2 separate regions of the Homo sapiens genome follow, and region 1 is linked to region 2. The links come from fine-mapping of genetic effects on gene expression. A gene starts in region 2. The other region holds a variant in brackets. All regions are shown on one strand. Distances are between the middles of the regions. Region 1 has its middle 37 kb from the start of KCNQ5. Region 2 holds the start of KCNQ5 (potassium voltage-gated channel subfamily Q member 5).

Region 1 (5,381 bases), 37 kb before region 2:
CTCTCTAGTTTAATTGGATCCCATTTGTCAATTTTGCCTTTTGTTGCCATTGCTTTTGGTGTTTTAGTCATGAAGTCTTTGCCCATGCCTATGTCTTGAATGGTATTGCCTAGGTTTTCTTCTAGGATTTTTATGGTTTTAGGTTTCACATTTAAGTCTTTAATCCATCTTGAGTTAATTTTTGTGTAAGATATAAGGAGGGGATCCAGTTTCAGTTTTCTGCATATGGCTAGCCAGTTTTCCCAACACCATTTATTAAATAGGGAATCCTTTCCCCATTTCTTGTTTTTGTCAGGTTTGTCAAAGTTCAGATGGTTGTATACATGTGGTGTTATTTCTGAGGCCTCTGTTCTGGTCTATGTATCTGTTTTAGTACCAGTACCATGCTGTTTTGGTTACTGTAGCCTTGTAATATAATTTGAAGTCAGGTAGCATGAGGCCTCCAGATTTGCTCTTTTCACTTAGGACTGTCTTAGCTATATGGGCTCTTTTTTGGTTCCACATGAAATTTAAAGTAGTTTTTTCTAATTCTGTGAAGAACATCAATGGTAGCTTGATGGGGATAGCATTGAATCTATAAATTACTTTGGGCAGTATGGCCATTTTCACGATATTGATTCTTCCTATCCATGAGCATGGAATGTTTTTCCATTTGTTTGTGTCTTCTCTTATTTCCTTGGGCAGTGGTTTGTAGTTCTGCTTGAAGAGGTCCTTCACATCCCTTGTAAGTTGTATTCCTAGGTATTTTATTCTCTTTGTAGCAATTGTGAATGGGATTTCACTCATGATTTGGCTCTCCATTTGTCTGTTATTGGTGTATAGGAATGCCTGTGCTTTTTGCACATTGATTTTGTATCCTGAGATTTTGCTGAAGTTGCTTATCTGCTTAAGGAGTTTTGTGCTGAGATGATGGGGTTTTCTAAATATACAACCATGTCATCTGCAAACAGAGACAATTTGACTTCCTCTTTTCCTATTTGAATACCCTTTATTTCTTTTCTCTTGCCTGATTTCCCTGGTCAGAACATCCAATACTGTATTAAATAGGAGTGGTGAGAGAGGGCATCCCTGTCCTGTGCCGGTTTTCAAAGGGAATGCTTCCAGCTTTTGCCCATTCAGTATGATATTGGCTGTGGGTTTGTCATAAATAGCTCTTATTATTTTGAGATACGTTCCATCAATACCTAGTTTATTGAGAGTTTTTAGCATGAAGCGGTGTTGAATTTTATCAAAGGCCTTTTCTGCATCTATTGAGATAATCATGTGGTTTTTGTCACTGATTCTGTTTATGTGTTGGATTACGTTTATTCATTTGAATATGTTGAACCAGCTTTGCATCCCAGGGATGAAGCCAACTTGATCATTGAGGATAAGATTTTTTATGTGATAGCTAAGTACTATTTAAATGGAGAGAAAAGACTGCTTGTGATTACCTTATTTTGAAGAATAAGGAAACTAGTATCCAAGTATGCAACTCTATGACTCCTTAACCAGCAAACACCATTTGGACACATGGACTGTAACTCTTCCATAGACTGATACTGATGATAGAACTATATCCCTTTTATTACTTCCTTAGTTAGTTTTTCTTTTCCTGATAAAGCATTTATCATTCTAAGACCTGGTGTGTGTTAGGATGGCTGTCAGTTATGACCAAGCTCATGTGTCTATTCTGGTTCTAATCTGTCCCCTTACTCTAATACTTAAGATTCAAGGAAGAATGTGGCTACTCCATTTTTCAGCAGATGCTGTTCCAATTCTCACCTGACCTGGTGTACGGTTCTTTGGATCACTTGCAAGGGGCTTCACTTGCAAGAAGCTTGGTAATTTCAACGAGATTTTCTCATTTGCTATAATAAGCTTGTTGACATGCTTTGTGGCAATAATTATATAGTTTAATCCTTAATAGTCTGATTTATTACCTAAAATATGTAAGTATAATGCCCAAAGAGGACTGCCCCAGTCTTTATCTCTTAAACTGTCTGCTGGTAACTCTTATTCTGTAACAATCTCTTGAGCTAGTTTTTCTTTGCATTCCAGAGAATTATGCCTTTCTTTTACCCTGTCTACAGACCATTCTCATCTGGCAGATAATTAATATATTAAAGAATCTTATTCCTTGTAGTGTTTTAAAATCATCACTTCCTAACAACTACACAAGCCATTTCTTCAATTTTGGAAATGAAGCAGACTATGTGGTAATGCAAAAGGTGTTTAATTATGTATAAAACAGATCATAGTTGCAAAATGATAAAGAAACTAGAGGCATTATAGTAAAATACTGCAAGGAAAAAACATGATTAAAAGTGCTGCAAGCTAATAACAAATATATTACAAAAATACTTAGATTGACAGAACTCTTTAAAGAAAATATCAGTCATTGTTTCTAAAAGCCAACTGATTACAGTTGATCAAAAGCTTTGACACCAACCAGTGCTAGGTATGAAGAAACAATTTTTTCTCAGAGAGCCTTTTTTAGTGCTTTATCAAGTATAATCTGTCTAATATCTATCTGCAGAAAAGTGGCGAGGCATTCCCAAGACTTTCTTGGATTCGTGCTTTGATGCCTAAAATTTAAACTTCCCTGGGTGCGACCATAACATATTTTTTCATCTGTTGATTATAGTGATTATAACTTTAGGACAGCATAACTGTTTTTATTTCCTTTTCAATTCAATTTTCTGATTGTAATATTCACTCTATTTTGTTGACTAAACTAGATCAGATTAATTTTCATGGCAAAAGAAGTGGTACAGTGTATGAAAATATTTTCTGTTTTGTTATGTTATAAAGCACTACCCAACCCAATATAATCTCATAAAGTTTAGTATTAAAAAGGCACCTCTAATCAACTTTTCAAAATAATGAATTAATGTGCCTAAAAATATAAAGAATGCTTCCAGCATGAACATGGCCATGAAAGTCACCATTTTCCCCTTTTCCTATGGGAAAATACAGAAAAGCGACAAGAACAAAACAAAACCTGAAATCTACATTTTTAGTGAAACTAGGAAACAAATATATTCCAGACTCAAATCACATTTAAGGGAGTCTAAAGAAAAAAAAATTACATTACTACTGGCAGCGTATAAGAGGTCTAGTTCTTCCATAACCTTACCAACATTTGGTATGGTCAATGATTTCAATTTGATTCATTCAAATAGATGTGTAGTTCTATTTTGTTATA[A/C]TCTTAATCTATATTGTGCTAATGCAGTGATGCCGAACACGTTTTCATATATTTATTTGCCATTTAGCTATATTTGTTGAAGTATCTATAAAAATATTCTATTTCAAAATTGAGTTGTTTTTCTCAGTATCGTGTATTGTTAATTTAAATTTTGCTAATCTGGTGGTAGGCAGTGGGGGGTAGTACTGTTATCTCATTAAGACTATAAGTAATATTTCCTTAACTGTAAAAAAGTTAAAAACATTTTTAAAGGTTTATTGGCCTTTCTGACACCTTTTTGGGCAAATGCCTATTCATGTTATTTTGCCCATTTTTTTCTGTTAAATTTTCTCTTTTTATTGATTTGTAGGCATTCATTGCATGTTATGAATATGAGTCTTTGTTAGCAAATGTCTTCTACTCTGGCTTGTCTTTTAGTAATTTTATAGCACCATTGGATGAACAAAATTCTTACTTACTTTTTTAAAAAGATTTTTTTGTAGAGTCAGGATCTCGCTATGTTGTCCAGCCTGTTCTCAAACTCCTGGTTTCAAGTGATTCTCCTGCCTCAGCCTCCCAAAGCACTGAGATTACAGTGAGCCACCACACCTGGCCCAAAATTCTTACTTCTAACATAAGCATGTTTATTGATCTTTTCCTTTGTGGTTAGTGCTTTTTATGTTTTATTTCAGAAATATTTTTTTTCCCAAATATCATGAATATATTTCCCAATGAGGTTTGCGGCAGTGCACAGTGGTTCACGCCTGTCATCCCAGCACTTTGGGAGGCCAAGGCGGGTGGATCACGAGGTCAAGAGATTGAGACCATCCCGGCCAACATGGTGAAACCCCATCTCTACTAAAAATACAAAAATTAGCTGGGTGTGGTGGCGCATGCCTGTAGTCCCAGCTACTCGGGAGGCTAAGGCAGGAGAAGCTCTTGAACCCAGGAGGCAGAGGTTGCAGTGAGCCGAGATCACACTACTGCACTCCAGCCTGGGTGACAGATTGAGAATCTGTCTCAAAAAAGAAAAAAAAAAAAAGTCCTTTTCCACTGCTCTACACTGCTTAATTCAATGCTCACAAATGCATGACTGTTTCTAGGTGCCCTCTGCTGTCCCACTGGGCAGCCTTAGTTATTCTATATTGTGTTAATGTTACTAAGTCTTGATATCTGGTAAGGATATATGCTAACTTGTCATATTTTACAAACTAATATGTAATATGTGTATCATTTTGCTTTTTATTCCTTCATGCATCTCACATCTTCCATGTAGGGTCATTTTATTCTTATTACGTAAATCCTTTAGGGTTACATTTTAGTGCGGTTTTGAAGGTGGTGAACACTCTTATTTTTCTGTGTATCTGAAGATGCCTTTATTTTACCTTCACTTTGGATAATAACTTCACTGGCTACCTATCTTAAAACTTCGAAGCTAGTATTCTACTGACTCCTAGCATCCTTAGTTGGCATTATGAAGTTATCAAACTGCTGTTCTTTTGGAGGCAGTCCATCTTTATTTTTCTGTTGTATTTAACATGTTTTCTTTGCTTAGGCATTTTGCATTTTTGCTATTGTGCATCTACATGTTTGTATATTTTTTAATTCAAATTTTATTGAGAGAATTATTGATTCAAATGTAGTTATAAGAAATAATACAGGCCAGGCGCAGTGGCTCATGCCTGTAATCCCAGCACTTTGGGAGGCCAAGGCAGACATTATCACAAGGTCAAGAAATCAAGACCATCTTGGCCAACATGGTGAAACCCCGTCTCTACTAAAAATACAAAAATTAGCTGGGCATGGTGGCACACGTCTGTAGTCCGGCTACTTAGGAGGCTGAGGCAGCAGAATCACTTGAACCTGGGAGATGGAGGTTGCAGTGAGCTGAGATCGCGCCACTGCACTCTAGCCTGGCAACAGAGCGAGACTCTGTCTCAAAAAATAAACAAATAAATAAATAAATAAATAAAAGAAAGAAAGAAATAATGCAGAGACTGGGTGCAGTGGTGCCAACACTTTGGGAGGCTGAGGTGGGAGGCTGTCTTGAGCCCAGGAGTTCAAGACTGATCTGGGCAATATAGTGTGACCCCTTCTCTACAAATAATAATAATAATAAAAACTATTAGCCAGGCGTGGTGGCACATGCCTGTAGTCCTAGCTACTCAGGAATCTGAGGCAGGGGGACAGCTTGAGGCTGCAGTGAGCCATAATC
Region 2 (5,381 bases):
CACTAGCAGTTAACATTTGCCTTTACCTCTTCATAATGCTCTAATGTAATTATAATGCATAGAATATACACTGTTTTACTCACTGCTCAGTATGCCTATCCTCTTTTCTAAATTTGAATTTTAATATTTCAGCAAAACGAACTAATAAAAGGCAGTTTCCTAGCAACGTCTGTATTCAAAGGAACAACAACAAAGCTTAATCGCAAACACCTTATTTTCTCCAAAGTTAATTCCCGTCTTTTGAGGGAAGTTAGCAGGTAGCAAATAAAGCAAGGTGCAAACAGAGGCTCTTGTAGGAGAGGTTGGCACAGACTCACTTGGCTTTTTCTTTCTGGGCATTGAAAGGTAGGAAGGTTAGAACTTCAGCTAAGCCAGTCTTTCCCAATGGTTGCAGTCAGAGATTGATACAAAACCCCAGAACTGTTTGCTATTTTATCCATTCTCTGCTGGAGATGCAGATTGATTGGTGGAAGGAACAGTGAACTAGGAAGCCAGGTTGTTGGATTCCTAGTAACTCTCACACTACCCGCGAAAACTTGAGCAGGCCCTCTTTTTCTGGGCTGTGTATCCAAATGGCGGTTACTCTAGAAGACATAAGTGAAAGGTCCTTCTCAGCAGCTCAAAACGGCTACCAGTAACCGGGTCTTTTTTATTTTTTAATTAAGCTTAAATGGCATTTGCTTAATCAATAATACAGTTTCACTAGAACTAATGCTGCATCCCCAGAAAAGCATCACTTAGAAATTAAACAGCTGGCTGTCTTCCAGGGAAACGTGTCCCTGTGTCCTGCCTTCCTGAGACTTCTTGCCTGCACGCGGGGCCCAGCCGCGCCAGAGAGATGGAAGTGACTTTACCTACCCAGCGAAAGTAGCAGTCTGCAACAAGGAAAACAGCTAAGTTAAGAGGAAGTGGTTTTCATTTTACTGCTTGCAGAAAGGCCAAGATTTTGACGTTTAAAGCGGGCACACGAGTCATTTTAAGTCTCTAGATCTTTCACCCTGAAAGTCCCTGCACAGAAACTCCATAGGGAGTCTAAATATAGCAACAGCACCCCCTCCCGCCCCCTCCGCCTTCAGTCAGGGTCCCGCGCAGCTCTAGGATTGGAGAGCTTACTCCAGGGCGCTCTCTGCATCTGCCTCGAATAGCACCGCACGGAGCAACCTCTCTCGCACCTCCACAGTGCGTGGGTGTGAAGTGTATTAGGGGAAAGCTAGAGAGTGACTCTGGGTGATGGTGCTCGGCTCACAGTCACATGGCGTCGCCGCCAGCTGCACAGAGCTCCCAGCTAGCTTCTGCTGCCCAGAGGCTTGGGGGGAAGGAGGGAGGGAAGCAGGCTCCTGCTGGTGACCAGGAGCAGGCGAGAGGGCTTCACACAAATAATAGTGATAATAAAGAGTAAAAGCAAAGCATTTAAATCGAGCTATTGCAGAAGACAGAAATCAGCTGCCGCGGGCGTGGGTGTGTGTACAGGGTGGGGGAGAATTGGGAAAGTATTTATCTCGGAGGGGCGGAGACAGCTGCAAGAAGACTTTTGTCTTAGCATTGTTTTAGCCTTAGGAAAGGAAAAGGCCCGAAGGAATCCACCTTGCAACTATCTGCTATGTCTTTGTGGTGGAAGCTTAGTTTTGCCTTCAATTTAATTTGATGATTTTCTTTCATATTTGGGGAAGAGCCACTCTGTTGGAAGAAGTCCCCGAGCCTGGCACCCTTCAGTTTTCCCTATGCTGAATGTGAGATTTAAACTGCCTTTTCTTTGTAATACACTGTTTCTGAAGGCCAGAGGCTGCGGCCAGTGGCACCGTGGCCTCTCTCTCCGCCAAGGGCGCATAGGCTTTGGGCCACCCGGGTGCCAGGGGTGGTGGAAGACCCAGTCAGTTGTTCCTTGCAACAGGTCTCTAAGCTTGTATGTTACAACATAAGGTGGGTGGGGTCGGAACCCCGAAAAGCCGGCGTCCTGGACACCCCATCCTCCAGGTGTTCTTTCCCAGACACTGGGTCCTCGCCGCCGCTGCTGAACTTCTCAATCATATGACTTTCTCGGACTTAAATGGAAATTTCTTGACGGAGGGAACTGGGTTTGTTCTCCCAGGCTTCGCGCTGCAGTCAGGCAGAGCCCCGGGGCAGCTCGCTCACCGCGGAGGAGCCACTTTGGAGTTTTACGCCCTTTCCACACCCCACCCATGGACTGGAAAGGATGTTCAGTTACTCGCGAGCTTGTCTGATACTGGGATGGAAAGTCACAGTCCGCAGGCTGGAGTGAGGCGCGGGAAGATGCCTGGTCCTTGCCTCGCGGACTTGGCAGCCGCGTCCTGCGGGTCTGTCCACTGAACTGCTGAGGACTCGCCCGTGTGCGGGGACCCGAGTGCCACTTCCCGGAGCGTTACCTTGCGCTCCAGCCTCCAGGCTAGATAATACCTGGAAGGCAGGGCAGGGCTGTTCCCGCTCTCACCCCTTGCGGAAGGATGGCAGGATCCGGCGCAGCGACGTAGCAGCGGGAGGGCACAGCGACCTGCATCTCCAGTTTCTCCTCAGGACACAAGGCTGACTTCACCTTCCGGACAGCTGCAAAGCCCCTGCCAGAACCAAACCGAACTCGCGCCTCGGAGAGGGGCTTCTGGGGCCGTTTCGCTGCAGGGCGTGGGGAGTGGAGAGAGGGAAGGGGAAGCCTGGGGCTGGGTGTGCGCGCGTGGGAGCGCGCCTCGGAGCGCCCCGCACTCCCCCACTCTATCCCCGGGGGCAGTTTGGGAAGGAGGGAGTGGTAGTCGCGGGAATGAGGGAGCAAGAGAAACCCTCTCAAAGTGACGCCCCAAACAGGTCCGGATTTAGAATTCGAAGCTAAAGGCTGTTAGAAATTGGGACTCCTCGGCCTCCTCTGCAGCCCCTCCTTTCCCGCCCCGAAGCCCGGGCGGTTTGCTGGCTGCCTGCTTCCCCGCCCCCGGCTCAGAGGTCTCTGGCTGGCGGGCGCCCCGTCGGCCGCCGGCTTCCTCCTTGAAACCCGCCGGCGCACATGAGGCCGCTGCCCCCGCCGCAGGCGCTGGCGGCCCCCTCGCGGTGCCCGTGGTGATGCCATGCCCCGCCACCACGCGGGAGGAGAGGAGGGCGGCGCCGCCGGGCTCTGGGTGAAGAGCGGCGCAGCGGCGGCGGCGGCGGGCGGGGGGCGCTTGGGCAGCGGCATGAAGGATGTGGAGTCCGGCCGGGGCAGGGTGCTGCTGAACTCGGCAGCCGCCAGGGGCGACGGCCTGCTACTGCTGGGCACCCGCGCGGCCACGCTCGGTGGCGGCGGCGGTGGCCTGAGGGAGAGCCGCCGGGGCAAGCAGGGGGCCCGGATGAGCCTGCTGGGGAAGCCGCTCTCTTACACGAGTAGCCAGAGCTGCCGGCGCAACGTCAAGTACCGGCGGGTGCAGAACTACCTGTACAACGTGCTGGAGAGACCCCGCGGCTGGGCGTTCATCTACCACGCTTTCGTGTGAGTACCCGCGCCCCCTGCTATGCCCGCTGCAGGGGACCACTGTCCCTGGCCCCCTGGGGCGTGCTCCGCGCTCGCGCCCTTGGGCCCCCGCGCGCGTGCACACGTGGTGGCTTTTATTTCTTCGCACGTGTTCGTGGTCTTCCTTCTGGAGCCTCTCCCCTCCCCCAGCCCCACTTCTCTCATCTCTACAGCTTGAACCTTTTCCCCGAGGACACCCAATGAACTGCCCGGTAGCTTCAGGCTCCCGGGGCGAGAGCCAGGCAGACGCGGGACTTAGGCTGCGCGGATAATTGGGAGCAATTAGGTCCCAAGATACGTAAACTTCAACCGAACGGGGCGCCCGGGAGCTAGGGAATGCAAAGGGAGGACAGGCGCCCGTGTGAGGCTTGAGAGTATACTGGAGAGGTTAGGAGGTGATGGCGGGGTAGGACGGGGAGAAGTGAGGGGGCATCGAGGGCTAGGTCCTCAGTCCTAGGGGCGGAGTAGGGGAAGCTGCTACTTGGAGAGAGCTGCTAGGTTTTAAGCGCGCCCGGAAACACGCCTCGCCACCACCCAGCCACCACCAACGGAAAATCTGTCAGTGCATGTAGCCCTTCCTGCCACGGAGAAGGTGGCCAAGGTCTAGAGGAGGCCAGCAGGCCAGGCGAAGCAACGCTCCCGCGCTGCAGGGGGCGGGGAGGCAGCGGGGAACCTGGGGCGCAGGAACGCGGGCGGAGGTGCGATAGCAGAAGCGCAAATGGGTCGCCTCTGACAGAGATCGGGCAGTGGGTTAAGTCCCCGTTTGTGGCGCGGAGTCAAAGAGTGTGTGTGTGTGTGTGTGTGTGTGTGTGTGTGTGTAGTAAGCCTTCTCCATCTAGCAGAGAATGCTTAATGAGAAAATGATTGGAAGCAAATGTTTATTTTTCCCTTAGGCATTTAAAACCTTTCAGTGGCTTTAAAGTTTACTACTGTTTTTCCCACAAAGTCCATTCATTCAGTCTCCTATTAGAGTTACGTTTATCTGGGCATTTTAAGGTTGTTTTTATAATGTTACCTCGTGTCTAATTCTTTTTTTCTTCCTCTTCTCCTTTTGCTTCCTCTTTTTTTAGTATTATTATTTCTGCTTCTTTTTTGTTAAGATGAAATATAAAGACATCAACCTTAGAAGACCAGTAGAGAAAGTTGCAGATACTCGCTGATACATTCCTTGTTTCCTAGTAAAATAAGTTTTGAGCACACGGACTAGGTTTCTTTTAGAAATAAGTTATGTCATCCATACATAGCTCTCTCCTGGGATGCAGAATTAGCATCAACACCAGAAACGTGTTTTGAAATAACATGGAAGAAGGGCTGGTTTTGTAACTAGGTGAACCTGGAATTCAACCACATAGGAGTCAGGAAATTGGTGGAGTCTACAATCTGTGGGGCTCTGGTGTCTGGAAAATTTTACAGTCCCAGATTGACGTGAACATGTAGCATTAGGCAGAATATTCCAGCCAACTTTCCGTTTTACAATGCACACAAGGAGAACGGTTGTGTTGCATCATCATTACATCAAAAAGTATAACTTTTATGTAAAATTCACATTTATTTAAATGTGGTTAGGATAATGATAGAGAAATGCAACTGACACTTTTCTCGTTAATCTCCTCTGACCTGATATGTAATTAAACATATTACTTAATAAGCCTGGTAAATTATTTTGACCTGTCAGAATATACTAAAATAATTTAGCAATTATAATGCTCAATTTGGTAGCAAATATATATACTGTATAGGTTATGATTTTTTCTTTACAACAGTATGCTCAAAACATTTCTAGCCTTTCTTTTTTTTATATTATGCATTGTATATTCAGAGAGAGTTAAAGAAAGCCTTGGTTGGTGCACATACTTTGCATCTCCTAACTTGTTCTTGAACATGAATGAGAACT

Evidence for each region.
Region 1: its variant is fine-mapped to the expression of KCNQ5 in whole blood (TOPMed, PIP above 0.99).

Annotation. Positions count from the first base shown.
Region 1 is chr6:72,582,176-72,587,556 of GRCh38, forward strand. No RefSeq gene overlaps it. Among named protein-coding and RNA genes, the nearest start is that of KCNQ5, 37 kb to the right of the region's middle. The variant A/C (reference allele first, on the strand shown) is at 3,188.
Region 2 is chr6:72,619,122-72,624,502 of GRCh38, forward strand. It overlaps KCNQ5 (potassium voltage-gated channel subfamily Q member 5), which reads left to right and starts at 2,943. Exons shown (of 14, transcript NM_019842.4): 1 at 2,943-3,466. The coding sequence starts at 3,069. KCNQ5-DT (KCNQ5 divergent transcript) reads right to left here and starts at 3,558. Exons shown (of 3, transcript NR_186827.1): 1 at 3,411-3,558. RefSeq lists enhancers at 1,328-1,517, 3,628-4,579 and silencers at 2,938-3,197, 4,228-4,277.